Linked DNA regions of Homo sapiens. The protein of the gene in region 1 purifies or fractionates together with the protein of each later gene. This does not show direct contact. Each region holds a gene or a part of one and is shown in the gene's direction. Other genes may lie near its edges.

Region 1 (7,691 bases):
AGGTGGGGAGAGGGATTCAAGAGGCAAGGACTGGGTAGCAGAGTGAGCTGAAAATAAAGACTGGAAAGGGAAGTGGATGAGTGCAGGATGAGCTAAAGTGGAGTCATGAGTGACAGAGCCAGTTTGACAGAGGAAACGCAAATGGAGTTTTGGCACAAGAAAGTGAAGGCATGGGGTGGATAATGTTTGCAAGGTTATGAAGACAAAAGCTTGAAAGTAGGGCAGTGATTAGATTTTATGAAATAAAGATAAACATTTGTTAGTAAACAAAGATAATAATAATAGCTGGGCGAGGTGGCTCATGCCTGTAATCCCAGCACTTTGGGGGGCTGAGGCAGGAGGATTGCCTGAGGTCAGGAGTTCAAGACCTGTCTGGCCAATAGGGTGGAACCCCATCTCTACTAAAAATACAAAAAAATTAGCCAGGCATGGTGGCGTGCGCCTGTAATCCCAGCTACTCGGGAGGCTGAGGCAGGGGAATTGCTTGAGCCAGGGAGGTGGATGGTGCAGAGCCCAGATCGCGCCACTGCACTCCAGCCTGGGCCACAGAGGGAGACTCCGCCTCAAAATAAATAAATAAATAAATGAATAAATAAAACAATAATAAAGGAAAACAAATTTAGTTCTATATCATTCTCCTAAATCCTTTCATTGAAAAACTAGCAATAGGTTTTTTTAAAGCCATTTATTATTTATACAATCAAACTTTTGAGTGCCTTTGTTGCAGAACTACCAGATCAGCTTATTATGGGCATCTGAGGGGTTCTACCATTCTAGATCAGCAGTCCCCACCGTTTTTGGCACCAGGGACCCACTTCGTGGAAAAGAACTTTTCCACAGAAAGTGGTGGTGGATGGTTTGGGAATGAAACTGTTCCACCTCTGATCATCAGGCATTAGTTGGATTCTCATAAGGAAAGCACAACCTAGATCCCTCGCATGTGCAGTTCACAATAGGGTTCGCAATCCTGTGAGAATCTAACGCCTAATCCCAGGGCTGATCTGACTGGAGGCGGAGCTCAGGCGGTAATGCTCGCCCTTTACCCCACACTGTGCAGCCTGATTTCTAACATACCACAGACCAGTACCGGTCTGTGGCCCAGGGGTCAGGGACCCCTATTCTAGATGACCTCTAATAGAAACACATTTTTCCCCCTAAATCCTCAGGTTCGCAATTTTTTTTTTTTTTTTTTTTTTTTTTTGAGACAGAGTCTCCCTCTGTCTCCCAGCCTGGAGTGCAGTGGCACGATCTTAGCTCACTACAACCTCCGCCTCCCGGGTTCAAGCGATTCTCCTGCCTCAGCCCTCCCAGGTAGCTGGGATTACAGACATCTGCCACCATGTCCAGCTAATTTTTGTATTTTTGGTTTTTTGTGGGTTTTTTTTTCTTTTTTTCTTTTTTTCCAAGACAGAGTCTCACTCTGTCGCCCAGGCTGGTGTGCAGTGGCATGATTTTAGCTCACTACAACTTCCGCCTTCCGAGTTCAAGCTATTCTCCTGGCCCAGCCTCTGGAGTAGCTGGGATTACAGGCACTCGCCACCACACCCAGCTAATTTTTGTATTTTTAGTAGAGACAGTGGTTTCACCATTTTGGCCAGGCTGGTTTCGAACTCCTGGCCTCAAGTGATCTGCCTACCTCAGCCTCTCAAAGTGCGGGGATTACAGGTGTGCGCCACTGCACGCGGCCAAGTTCACAAATCTTAAGGTCCACTACGAGTTCTAGCTAACAGGGTCTTGAAAAAATAGGTACAACGTTAGGAAATCCAAAATCCAAGCCATTGGAGCCATGGAGACAGCACTCCAAACTCAAGAGGGGTCGATTTCTTTCCTCTCTGCAAGGAACCCCCACTAAGATCTGTGTAATGCTGTTACCACACCCCACCACTTACCCAAAGTTAGCCTTTGGTTGGAAGGTTTCCTTAGTATTGGCCCTTCCGTGGTCGCCAGGAAGATATTACCAGAAAAGTAATACTGGATCCAGACCCCAAGAGAGGGTTCTTGGATCTCGCACAAGAAAGAATTCAGGGCGAGTCCGTAAAGTGAAAGCAAGTTTATTAAGAAAGTAAAGGAATAAAAGAATGGCTACTTCATAGAGCAGCCCCAAGGGTTGCTGGTTGCCCATTTTTATGATTATTTTTTGATGGTATTATGCTAAACAAGGGGTGGGTTATTCATGCCTCCCCTTTTTAGCCCATATAGAGTAACTTCCTGATGTTGCCATGCCATTTGAAACTGTCATGGTGCTGGCAGGAGTGTAGCAGTTAGGACGACCAGAGAGGTCAGTCTTGTTGCCATCTTGGTATTGGTGGGTTTTAGCCGGCTTCGTTAGTGCAACGTGTTTTATCAGCAAGATCTTTATGACCTGTACCTCGTGCCGACCTCCAGTCTCATCCTGTGACTTAGAATGCCTTAACCGGCTGGGAATGCAGCCCAGTAGGTCTCAGCCTTATTTTACCCAGCCCCTATTCGAGATGGAGTTGCCCTGATTCAAACGCCTCTGACAGTGCTGTGTAAGTTCGTAGGAAACTTGGCAGAGAGAGGCTCAGTACCTTGCCTGAAGGCTTATCACTGAAATAATTAATGTAGGTATAGAGAAGTTGCAGGTCAGTTACAAATGGCAAAAACAACACATTATAAATTGAGAAATAAATATTAGAAAAATGGATTTGCAGTCCTTAGACTAATACTTTTAAGCTTGGGACAGTTTGGTGGGAGCGTGTGAGTATTTTGACTGGTGAAGGCTCAGAAATAATATTGTGTTCTCTGCTTTAAAATTAGCAGGCAAAAATATACAATTCACCTCTGGAAAATCATCTAGTTGACAGTACATTTGTCCCAAAGCCAGCAGTCATGAGGGAGGAGAGTGGCATGCCTCCACCGTGGGATGCTTCACTGCTGGAGAATGAGTTTTTCCAAGGTAAGTTCATGCATTAAATTGCCTTTGCAACTACTGATAACTAAAGGAAGTAAACAATAACTAGTTTGTATCAAACTACTCAAAACATATGAAACACTGTACTTTATTTTTTACATCCTCATGTTTAGCTTATTTGAAGAGGATGCTGATATGTTATTAACACAAGTATTAAGAATCTTATGATTAAATATAATCTAAGCAAATATTCTTGAATCATGGACTGATAAATATATGGAGTAGTAATAATGTTTAATATTTAACCTTAGGGGTCAGGAGTTTGAGACCCCATCTCTACTGAAAATACAAAAATTAGCTAGGCATGGTGGCACGCACCTGTAATCTCAGCTACTTGGGAGGCTGAGGCAGGAGAAGTGCTTGAACCTGGGAGGCGGAGGTTGCAATGAGCCGAGATCATGCCACTGCACTCCAGCCTGGGTGACAGAGCAAGCAGAAAAAAAAAATTAACCTCAGGTAAAAAGGAAATACATCTTTAGGAAATACATCTACAAAGTTTGCTGTTTAATAGACTTTTATTGTTCCAGATTAGGACCCAAATGCACTGTGATAAAATCTAATTGACATTAGACAATTAACCTTGTATGATGATAAAAACTGAGACAGGTTCCAAAAGCAGTGGCGTTCCAAATGCACATGTATCTTATTATATGATCATAGTTTACTTTTACAAAGGTTATTCTATATAAGCCCGGCCATTTGAAAAGTTAACTCTGAAGTCGCCACCAGCTTCACTTTGAGGAACTTCATTTAGTTTGCAAAGGCAATACCATCGCCTGGCCCATATTGTGTGGGACAGCAGTCGGGTAGAGACAGTCAGCTGGACAGTCAACGTAGGGGCCTTCTTCAGTAAGATGCTTCCTGGCAGAGAACAGAGGAAAATCTTTGTTCCAAAATGAAGGTTTTGTTGAAAGAGGAGAGCTACTGTTTATGGAATGAAAAAATAATGAAAAAATAATAATAATGTGGCCTTTCTGAAACTAATGTAGAGAAGCAGAACAGGAATTTTTCTGATGTCAGGAGTGATGAGTAAACAGCATTGTTAATCTGGGATTCTAAGTGGCTTTAATTTAAAATCTTGTCATGGGGATGTTAAGAATGGTTACCTCTAGGTAGAATTCCTGGCGATTTTACTTATATTGTTATACTTTTCTGTATTTTCTGTTCTAAATACATTCTGCTCTTGTAGTCAACCAAGACTTTAAGGGGAAAGAAAAACATAAACAGCTTGAAAGGGAGAATGGGTATCAAAGAGATTTTCATTATAATTTGTTTTAAAGATAGATTTTTATTCATTATGCAGTTGTTTTGTTTTGTTTTTTGCCCCACCTTATACTTCAGCATTGCTTGATTATTTTATTGTGGCTATAGGGAACAAATTACTTCAGGTCCTAGGGGTAAATAAATATTTTTCACTAAAACATTCACAGATAATTCCCTAAAAGAATTCCTTAATTACATATCCTTAATGTTCAAGATCAGTTTTTCTTTTGGTTGTACAAACTTAATAACACCAACTTGCAAATAAAATAGGATAGGGAAAAATCCAGAACAGATTTTTTTAAATCCCTTTAGCATCTGCCCTAACTTAATTGGCATGTTGCATGTACATTTCACTTATGTGTGCTCAGACACTTACATTTCCTGTCATTATACAGTTGAAATAAAATTTGTAATTTATTTGTATTTATTGAACATGAATATAGTAAACTATATCTATTATAGAGTGGGTCTTAGAGAGTCTACACACCTCAAAAGATTATGATTCTATTCAAAATCTAATGGGTTTTTATTGAGGAAAACATGTCAAGTACAATTAAATGGATACAATTCAAAGAAAAGCCAACTGTGTCACCAAAAGGATGCTGTGGCTTGTCTAAGATCACAGAGGCTGTGGTCCTAGAGAGCATGAGCCCTGGGTCTGGGCTTGGTCTAGGTCTTCAGTTATCGTAAGGGGGCCCCTGGGCACTGACTTTGACACCACTCCCTGACTTTGCTACCGAGAGAAAAGTCATCATTATTTGACAACAGCAACTTCACGTCTTTGTAAAACTATGAGCTCGTCTCACAGTAAAATCATCTGTATGGTTCATAAAGAGCAAAATATGAAAAGTGAGTTTTTTTTTCTGGTTTTTTTTTTTTTTTTTTGAGACGGAGTCTCGCTCTTTCGCCCAGGCTGGAGTGCAGTGGCGCCATCTTGGCTCACTGCAAGCTCTGCCTCCCGGGTTCACGCCATTCTCCTGCCTCAGCCTCCCGAGTAGCTGAGACTACAGGCGCCCGCCACCACGCCCGGCTAATTTTTTGTATTTTTAGTGGAGACGGGGTTTCACCATGTTAGCCAGGATGGTCTCAATCTCCTGACCTCGTGATCCGCCCGCCTCGGCCTCCCAAAGTGCTGGGATTACAGGCATGAGCCACCGTGCCCGGCCCAAAAGTGAGCTTTTATGGCACAGAGGTTGCATTGTACAGTGGTTGTATGCATGGATTCAGGAAACAGACTGTCTGGGTTCAAATCCCAGTGCTGTGTGATCTTAGGAATTTGCTTAATCTCTTCTTGCATCAGTTTCCTCATTATAGAATGAGAATAGTAATAGGACCAACCTTCTAAGTTTGTGTGACGACTTAGTGAGTTAATATATTAAGCGTTTAGGACTCTGCCTGACACATAGAAAGTGCTGTTTTATAGGAGTGTTAATGGGTATTAATTTTTCCAGAAAAAAAAATCTACCATTGGCATATCATTTAATAATATTATATATCCAACTAAGTATGTTCATAAATTAGGTGCTAAGCTTTTAGTGGTAATACTGTTTTCTTAACAGTACAACCTAGAAATCATATGCTACTTACAGAGGTTCATTTCTATTATGATCCCAGGAGGTATACACAGCTGGAATTATTGTAGCAACCTAGTGACATGAAAGAAACAGAAAGACAAGGCTTAATAATACTAACAATTGTCTAGTTATTCAATGTCTGCATTATTAATTCCATTTTATTACTGGTCCATATCTTAGAAAAACTCAATACACTTTAGATGCACTAAAAAAAAACATGATTAAAATTCATTGTTAGAAGAATATAGTTCAATTTCCTTACGGCGTTAATGGAAGGTTTACTTTGAAAAAAAGTGATTTGAAAAAGTAGGAAAGAAATTTTCACTATAGTCTTATAAAAGTCAGGCTATCTTAAAAATATAATCAAAATTAATGTTATAACATGATAATATGATAAAAATAAAATTATAAATGATTATGTTTCTTGAAAAGGAGCCTTCAATAACTCAAATTATTATTAAACTGTAAAAACATACAGAAAAAGGTTGATTCACATTCTCTTTTCAGTTTTAGATGACTTGGATAGCAAATTGGCTCAGGAACAGTCTGCAAGCTCAGTGAATACCAGAACACCCCTCAACTATGGATCAAGAACACAGTTCGGTCACTTTTATTCCAGTGGTAACAGACATGGTAATATCACAGAAAGGCACAAAAAACACTATAATGAAACTTCCAATATGTCTATCTATGACATCCTAAGACCAGGAACTCCTAGGGAAGGTTTTAAAACCTTTTCTCCTAGGACAAGCACAATTTATGATATGTATAGGACAAGGGAGCCCAGAGTCTTTAAAGAAGATTATGTGCAAAAGAATACTTTTGGCAGTACTTCGCTGTGTTTTGACAGCAGGCAACGGTCGGCCTTACCAGCCACAGGGCATTTCACAGCAAGAAGCTTACATTTTCCAGCCACAACTCAGAGCAAGAGTGGGTTTATACCACCAAGGCACCAGCAGAGTCCAAAGAGAACTCCTTTATCATCCATCATATGGAACAGATCAGATTCCTCTAGAGACAGGGAGAACCAGGAAGAGTTCCTGAGGGCACCATCACCAATGGAAATTGATCCCGCTGACAAGTATGTGTATCCCAGGGGTTTTCAGGAGAATAAGAGATATGAATCGTACCATTCACAGAATGTTTACCAACGTGTTAGTTTAAATGCTCCCATGGAGAATGCAATGAGTCCCGACACTTTTGAGAACTCAGAGAACATGCCATTCTACCATCAAAGCAACACATTTACCAGATCTTTCTTCAGCAATACCTTTGGACGAAGCGGAGAACAGAGGAGATTTGGACAAGGTCCTTTTTGGGGCCAAGAGAAAGGACATTCTTTCTGGTCTGACTTTCATCGAAGCAGGAAATCATTCAGTTCTTCTGACAGAGACTTTGAAATGATTTCCATGGAAGCAAATAGTGTATCAGCCATTCATGGCCATAATGTTTCTTCTGAACACTGGGAATCATTTTCTTCTGGTTATGGAACAGATGTTTCCAGAGGCCAAGAAGAGCCACATCCTTGGCAGTTTGATTTTCAGAGATCCACACTGGATAGCATGGTGGTATCACATGGTAATGAGACCCAGTTGACTCCTCATTTTGGCACACCAAATGTTTGCTCCATGACTGGTTCAAGCTATCACGTCAAATCTAGTGAGTTGGTAAGTCAACAGGACAGTTCTCCTGTAGAAGTACATATAAACAAAGAAGCTTCCTCATTTGGAATTGCTCAGACTCTAGCATCCTCATTCAAAACTTCCTTTTCCCAGATTTCTGATGACAGAAGGAATCCTCAGAGTCCCAACTTGCAGAATCCCACAGTCACTTTGCAGAAAATTTTTCCAAATAAGCCTGCCTCTCATCCAATGAGAAGCCATACAGAAGTCACTGTGACCAGCAGCAATTCAGTTGACTCT
Region 2 (7,691 bases), on another chromosome or scaffold:
ATAGAGAAAATGTGGTACATATACATCATAGAATACTATGCAGCCATAAAAAAGTGAAATTATGTCTTTTGCAGCAACATGGATAGAGCTGGGGACCATTATCCTCAGTGAATTAATGCAGAAACAGAAAATCAAATGCCACATGCATTCTCACTTATAAGTGGGAACTAAACAATGGGTACGCATGGACATAAAGACAGAAACAGTAGACACTAGGGACTCCAAAAGGGGGAAGGGAGTGGGAGAGGGGCTGAAAAACTACTTATTGGGTACTACATTCACTGTTTGGGTGATGAATTCAATAGATGCTCAAACCCCAGCATTATGCAATCTATCTACGTAACAAGCCTGCACATGTACCCCCTGGTTAAACAAACAAAAAAGATGAGATTGGGAAAAGCCATAGAAAAGTAATATTTCCTGAAACTAGTGACCCAAGAGAACTTTGAGGAAAGGTAAACTAATTATTATATTTTATACAAGTTGTTTTGTATTCATATTTTACAATATATTTATAAGATATATATGTATATATTTCAATATAACTTATTACATTACCTGGATATAATTATTTGACATAAATACAAACATGGTTGTATTCCAGATGGCATTCTCTTTGGAATTTTAGATGCCTTTGGGATTTGTACTGAACAAAAAGGTGAGAAGGTTCGCTGGTGTTAGAAGTTCTCTTTTGTTTTCTCTTTCACTTTGCTGTTTTAGGTGTACAGAGCCAGTGGGCCGGATGGAGCCACTGGCAGAGGCCAGAGAATCCACCTGCAGTTATGGGACACAGCAGGGCAGGAGAGGTATGAGATCTTCAGTTATGTGCTCCTTACTGAAGGAAAGGGAAAAATAGTTACATTCTTCAAACAGTGACCTGAGCAGGAAAAAGCCAGCCAATTCGTTGGTTTGCACTTGAATGCTGCCAAATTAGCAGGAAATTTGTCAAGTCTGAGATGAGAATGGTGGCCTTATTTCATACAAGGTCAAGGGAGAGGTTATGACTCTTACTTGTGGACTTTTTTCTTTTCCTTCTTTTAATTTTTTTTTGCTTAGATACTTTGCTCCATTTCCTTTTGCTATTTACTCAACCACAAGAAAGTGGCCAAGTTACATGCATTATTCTTACCTGACTGTTGAAATCTAGTGGGATATCTGGTTGGAATTAATTCATGTGACCAGGGGTTACTTGACCAAAATAAGCCACATGAAATCTTGATATAAAGTTGCTTTCAGTTAGCTAGAACTTCTGTTTTCTTTCACAGCCACCTTGAAGGATTTTGTTTTTTAACTTTTTATTATGGAAAACTTCAAGGATATTCAAAAGTGGAAGGATTATATGATAAACCTATGTACCCATTACTCAGCTTCAACAATTATGAAATTGTGGCCAACAGAATTTCATTTATACCCCTTACCTCTTCTCACCCCACCCCCTTACCATATAATTTAGAAGCAAATTCCAGACACTATATTATTTCATTTTTAATACTTGTGGTAATGTAGCTCTAAAAGATAAGAGCTCTTTTTTGTTTTTTTTTTGGGCGGAGTTTCATTCTTGTTGCCCAGGCTGACGTGATCTCAGCTCACCGCAACCTCTACCTTGCTGGTTCAAGTGATTCTCCTGCCTCAGCCTCCCGATTAGCTGGGATTACAGATGTGCACCACTACACACAGCTAATTTTGTATTTTTAGTAGAGTTGGGGTTTCTCCATGTTGGTCAGGCTGGTCTCTAACTCCTGACTTCAGGTGATCTGCCTGCCTTGACCTCCCAAAGTGCTGGGATTACAGGTGTGAGCCATGGCCCCTGGCCAAGAACTCTTTTTAATAAAAACATTGATTAAAAGTATTTGAGAAAAACCTAATATTGCTGATTAGATGACAAATTCATACCAATATTTTCTTCCCTGGAGCCTGCCTGTCAGTTACAGGTTTTACATATAGGCAAAGACGAGAGGAAACTGACTGGTGATAGGGTGGGGTTGGGGGTGGGGAGAGAGAGAGAGAAGACAGGGAAGACAGAAGGATAAAGCCTTGGAAGGCAGAGTACCAAGACAGAATAAGGTCTGAGTCAAGAGATTCTTACCTTCAAGCCAAACAAATGGCTATCAGAGATAAGAGATCTCTGCATATTCTGAAATTAAAAGATCATGGAACACATTGTAATGTCAAGTCAAGCTTTCACAATAGGAAAACATACACTATATTGCTTTTGGCCAAATTAACTCATAATTGTACATAAATTCTTGGGTGAGACTAAGATCACAAGCTGGTTCTTGTCATCCCTCTCCAGCAGCCTCGGTTTTCAAATCACATGGTCTGTTAACACTTAAACTGATATAAGTGATAAATAACTATCCTATATACTTTTGAAATATCACCATGTAGCTTGTTATTGGTAAACTTTTGTAAGAGGCTGAAGGCATTGCTTGTAGTTTTATATTTCAGGAGTGGGGCCGTGGTTTAACTGACCATTCTGCTTTTATGTTCCTAGGTTTCGTAGCTTAACGACAGCGTTCTTCAGAGATGCTATGGGTTTTCTTCTACTTTTTGATCTGACAAATGAGCAAAGTTTCCTCAATGTCAGAAACTGGATAAGTAAGTGTTATTGTTCCCCAGTGTCCTGCTACACAGTCCCCTCTTATTTATAGAATGCCCTCTTATGCTCTACTTCTGTGACAAATCGTTTTGGAGGAGATCTTAGTGCAAATACTATTTTAAGGAGCAAGGTTTTTAGTTTAGGGACAAAGATAATTGAAATACTCTGCTTCTCCCTGGTACTGATAACTTTGATTTGTTGAGTACTTCCTGTGCTCCAGGTGCAAGGCAGCACTTTATGTGTGCTCTCCTCTTCAGTCTATCCCACAGAAGAGACTCTTATTCCCATTTCGTAGATGAGGAAGTAGAAGCCTAGAGAAGTTAAATCTCTAAGTATCTGCTTGTCTATTGTATGCTATCAATTCTTCTATCATCTCTGGACATTAAATGGGTATTACATAGATGCAGATAGCTTTTAAAGACTTAATGGATCATACCCCTGGCTTCATGTCTTTTCTGTGCTTAGAGTCCCCTTCTAGCTTTTAGGGTTAGAGCATCTTTCAGGAGGATTCTGCCATGGAAAACTCTACAACTGCATTGGTAAAAGTGGTCACCAGTGCAATATATGTCAACCTTTATTTTGGAGAGATTTTAACCTCCTAAATGATTGGTTCATAGCCATTTCGAATTCTGCCACTTGACTGCATAACAGCTTTCAAATGTATATTTTCCCTGTTTGGTCATGTTAGTGTAACCCTAGAGAATCTATTAGGGAAGGCTGTAATATTAAATTCTTAACATCTAAATCTTTAAAACACTGATTTAAAAAGATCTGCTACTTAAACATTACTGTTTTGGGATTATGAAAGGGTAATTGGCTGTAGTTTTGATAGTAGAAAAGCTTAGATTAAAAATGAGTTTAAAAATAATTTAGTGCACTGTGGTTTTCACATACTTTGTATCTGATCCTCACAATCACCCTGGGCAAAGATTCGGGTCAGTGTTGTGTCCTTATTTCAGGAGAAGGACATTGAGCCTTAAAAAGTAATAGACTTATCCAAGGATATGAAGCTTTGGCTTTCCTTTTTAATGGCCTTTTTTTTGCCCGTTCTCAAGTCAGTTGGCCACTAAGAGTTGAAGAGCTATTAATTACTTTAAATATGAGTTCCCCAAATATAGTAATGCTTACTGGGGCTTCACTTCGCTAGATGCCTGGCTAAGTTGCCTCATTATTTCCCTTGTAGCTGAATGACAGTGGCTGTTTATGGTCTCTTACTCTCAGCCCGTGTTCATCATCCCTCCTTTGCATCATCAGAACAAGTTCTGGGGCTTTTTAAAATCAACTATTTTATAAGGATCACTAGAGAGTGCGCATAGAATCTTAGCATCAAAAAATAACGCACCTGTTTTTCATAGGTAGACACTAAAACTCTGAGACATTAGATAAATATTGCCTATCCTGGCTAACTAGTTGGATAAAGAACAAAATTATGTGAAAATATGTATACATATGTATGTATTTTGTTTTGTTTTCCTTAGAGAGTAAAAGAATCCTTATTGCTCAGTTAGGTAAAGAACACTTATACGTATTGAAGATTTTATATATTTAATAGAAAGTATTCTCCACCCCCTACCATTTAAACAAAAAGGTGTAATGTTCAGTGTCAGAAGTGGTAATATCAAATCTTAATTAGGAATAAACATTTGTTAATTATCTGTACTTTTATTTTTTTCTTCTTCCTGTCAGCCTTTTGAGTATTACAATGATCATTCATTTCTTATCTTTTTTTTTTTTTTTTGAGATGGAGTTTCTACTCTTGTTGCCCTTGCTGGAGTGCAATGGTGCAGTCTCGGCTCACTGCAACCTCTGCCTCCTGGGTTCAAGCAATTCTCCTGCCTCAGCCTCCCGAGTAGCTGGGATTACAGGCGCACACCAACACCCCCAGCTAATTTTTGTATTTTTGTAGAGATGGGGTTTCACCCATCTCCCGGGGTTTCATCCAACTCCTGACCTCAGGTGATCCACGCGCCTCAGCCTCCCAAAGTGCTGGGATTACAGGCGTGAGCCACAGTGCCCGGCCCATTTCTTATTTTTTAATAAAAATAATAGCTTAATACACACAAATACACACTCACACACACACACACACACACACACAAATACATAAAAATCAGTGGTGAGTGCCAGAACACAGTGTTGCATTAAAGAAGTAGCTGACTCGTGGGCCCTGATTGGCCTGGGAGAGGAGAGCAGGTCTATATACCCTCCCCTTTCCCTTTGCTCCTTGCAGACCCCTCCCTCTCACTCAATCTCTCCATGCCCTCTTGAGAAGGGTGATAAAAGTCTAAAGTAAGCCCCACTCAGATGAGGAGACAGAACAGAGGCTGAGTCCTCTGGGCCTGGATTGAAATCTGAAAGGAATTTGGTAGTGTGGTAGTCACTGTCCTGTCTTCCTGGAGTTCAGAGGAGTAAGCACGTCATGCCCAGAGTCACTCTTCATCCAGTGCTAGTGTGTTTCCTAAGGAAACTTTAAAGTAGCCTACATTTCTAAACTTTCTTCTGTAGAGTCCCATAAGTGGTGCAAAAACCCAACAGTATATATTTTACATATTTTTACTTCTTTATTTTTTATTCCCATTATTCTCTCTGTCTGAAAAACCCTTTCCACACCTGCCCCCATTTTTTAACCAACTGGAGTTCTGCTTATTCTTTAAAACCTAGCAAAGATGGCCTCTGTGAGATTCTCTGTAATAAACTTAGTTGTGTTAGATGTTTTCCCTCCTTTTAACCCCTGTTACATTTTATACTGTGTATAGGGTCCTTATTACATCCATTATCAGACTGTAGTTGTTTATGTAGGTGACTTTTTTCTTAGTGAAGTTTTTAAAATAACTGATTAATTTGCTTTTTAGATAAGCACAATCTTAGTAGAAAAATTAGGAAAAATGAGACAAAAAGAAGAAATCACCAATAATCACACTTCCTAGACTACCCAAAATAAATACTGTTAACCATAATTACTGGTGATACTTACATGCTCTTCTAAATGCTTTAATATATTAACTTAGTAGTTCTCAAATGTGAATGTGCATCTCAGTCACCTGGAGGACTTTTTAAAACACAGATTTCTAGCCCCATTTCCAGCATTCCTGATTCAGTAGAGCTGGAGTGGGACCTGAGACTTGCATGTCAACAAATTCTTAGGTTATGCTAAGGCTGGTGGCTCACAGTCTTTACCTGCAGAATCACTGGATTAATTCATTTTAATCCTTACCTTGACTGTATAAAGTAAGTAGTATCATTATCACCATTTACAGATGGGGAAATTGAGGCAGTCAAATAACTTCATCAGGGTCACACAGCTAGTAAATGGCAGAGCCAGGATTCATCCCTAGGTACACTGGATCCTGAGTCTGTGCTCATAGCATGACACTGGGCATGGACCTATAACACCTTATAAGGCATTAACAGAGCACAGAGCCACTCTGGAGACCAGAAAGATAATGAGGTAACCATGAAGCAAGTCTTGAAGGAAGGTTGTGGTTAAGTATTCAGTGATGTGGGAACAGCATGTGTAACAACCTGGAGGAAAGAAAGGGCATGGCTTTTCATGAAATGGTACACAGTTTAGTCTGTCCTCTGTAGGTCTTATTACCCCAGTTGCCCCATGAGGGCAAAGAACTGTTGTGAAATTCCATGCAGAGTATCAGGCCTGTGCTAATGCTCAGTAAACACCTGCCTACTTGACTTTCTCATGATAAGATATGATGAACACTACTTCATAATGAGGAACTAAAATGTCCACACTTTTCTGGTTAACCATGATGAAAAAATAAATTAGGCCATAAACTCTGAAGTATGTCTTACTGTGAACGTTTAGGCCTTAATTTTATTCTGGGGTGTGATGGGTAAGAAATGAGGTGTTATTTTCCTACTTTGAAAGATTAAACTATTTAGCTTAGTGAAGCTCTTTGGTTTGAGTCAATTGCTTTTTATAATTGTGCCTATTTGCAGGTTTTCAGGTGAAATAAAAGCTGCGGAATAAGAATTATAGTCCTCTGCTTCCACTTGGCTCTGGTGACAGAATCACTTACTGTTTATTCTGGGTCTTTTCTTCTCATTGAAGCCTGTATCTTGTTTGTTTTAAATGAGTTGATTCTGCCCTAGGATAATAGAAAAATGTGAAAAACATTTTGGATAGAAATAGATTAGTTTGGAGAAAAACAATTCTTTTAGAAATGTCATTGCTATGGAGAAAAAAACACATAAAAACAGTTTTAAGATTAGCAGTAAACCCTAGGAACTCCTGCAACTTTCTTTTCAAATAGCCTTCATAAAAAAGAAAGGTGTTTTGTATGTGTGTGTGTGCATATGTGTGCGTGTGCACATGTGGGCCCTCACACTTGAGAGGTAGCACATTCTCCTATAAACTCTCCGATATCAATAAACTGGGGTATGTGCTTAAGAATGGTTTTATATTTCTGCCCCAACTATTCAGCTTTACAGATAAGATTACTGATGCTTTGAAAGCATTATGTCAATTCCCAATATCTATATATACATTATAGTCTTCAAAGCACTTTTGCATGTATTGTTCACTGATCATACACTTACATTATTATTTACATATATAATAAACTTTCTTATATTAATAGGCCAGCTACAGATGCATGCATATTGTGAAAACCCAGATATAGTGCTGTGTGGAAACAAGAGTGATCTGGAGGACCAGAGAGTAGTGAAAGAGGAGGAAGCCATAGCACTCGCAGAGAAATATGGGTGAGTATTTTTGTGGAGAAGTCTAGAGAAAACATTTTCAATATAAACATTAGCAGGTGAATGGTAATGAAAAAGATAAAAGTGGACAATTAAAGCAAAACCTCAGCCATAGGCCTTGGGGCATGTTGAATGTGTCCTTTTTATATGATATGATAGTAGGATCCATTGACAATGCATGTGGCAAGGGCCTCCTTCAGTGCTTTGGTCCCATTTTCTCAAACTCTTGGCATTTGCAGAGAGACAACTTTGAGTTGTCTCAGAGGCGCCTTAAGTATGTAAGGCCTTCTTTCCAAGATGCAAATAGGAGACTCCTGGGGTAAAGAAATCCTCCATGTTGAGCGAGGAAATTTCTTTTTTCATTTCTTTTCTTTTT

What was found.
Region 2: the proteins of EXPH5 (region 1) and RAB27A purify together in Homo sapiens (affinity purification with western blotting; 2 studies listed by BioGRID and IntAct, with this or other methods). This does not show direct contact.

What each region holds. Positions count from the first base shown.
Region 1 is NC_000011.10:108,513,461-108,521,151, reverse strand, and holds part of EXPH5 (exophilin-5), read left to right. Parts: intron 1-2,778; coding exon 2,779-2,917; intron 2,918-3,428; exon of another isoform or gene 3,429-3,793; intron 3,794-5,782; exon of another isoform or gene 5,783-5,841; intron 5,842-6,276; coding exon 6,277-7,691. UniProt on the Homo sapiens protein: May act as Rab effector protein and play a role in vesicle trafficking.
Region 2 is NC_000015.10:55,223,516-55,231,206, reverse strand, and holds part of RAB27A (ras-related protein Rab-27A), read left to right. Parts: intron 1-720; coding exon 721-806; intron 807-2,494; coding exon 2,495-2,598; intron 2,599-7,194; coding exon 7,195-7,318; intron 7,319-7,691. UniProt on the Homo sapiens protein: Small GTPase which cycles between active GTP-bound and inactive GDP-bound states. In its active state, binds to a variety of effector proteins to regulate homeostasis of late endocytic pathway, including endosomal positioning, maturation and secretion.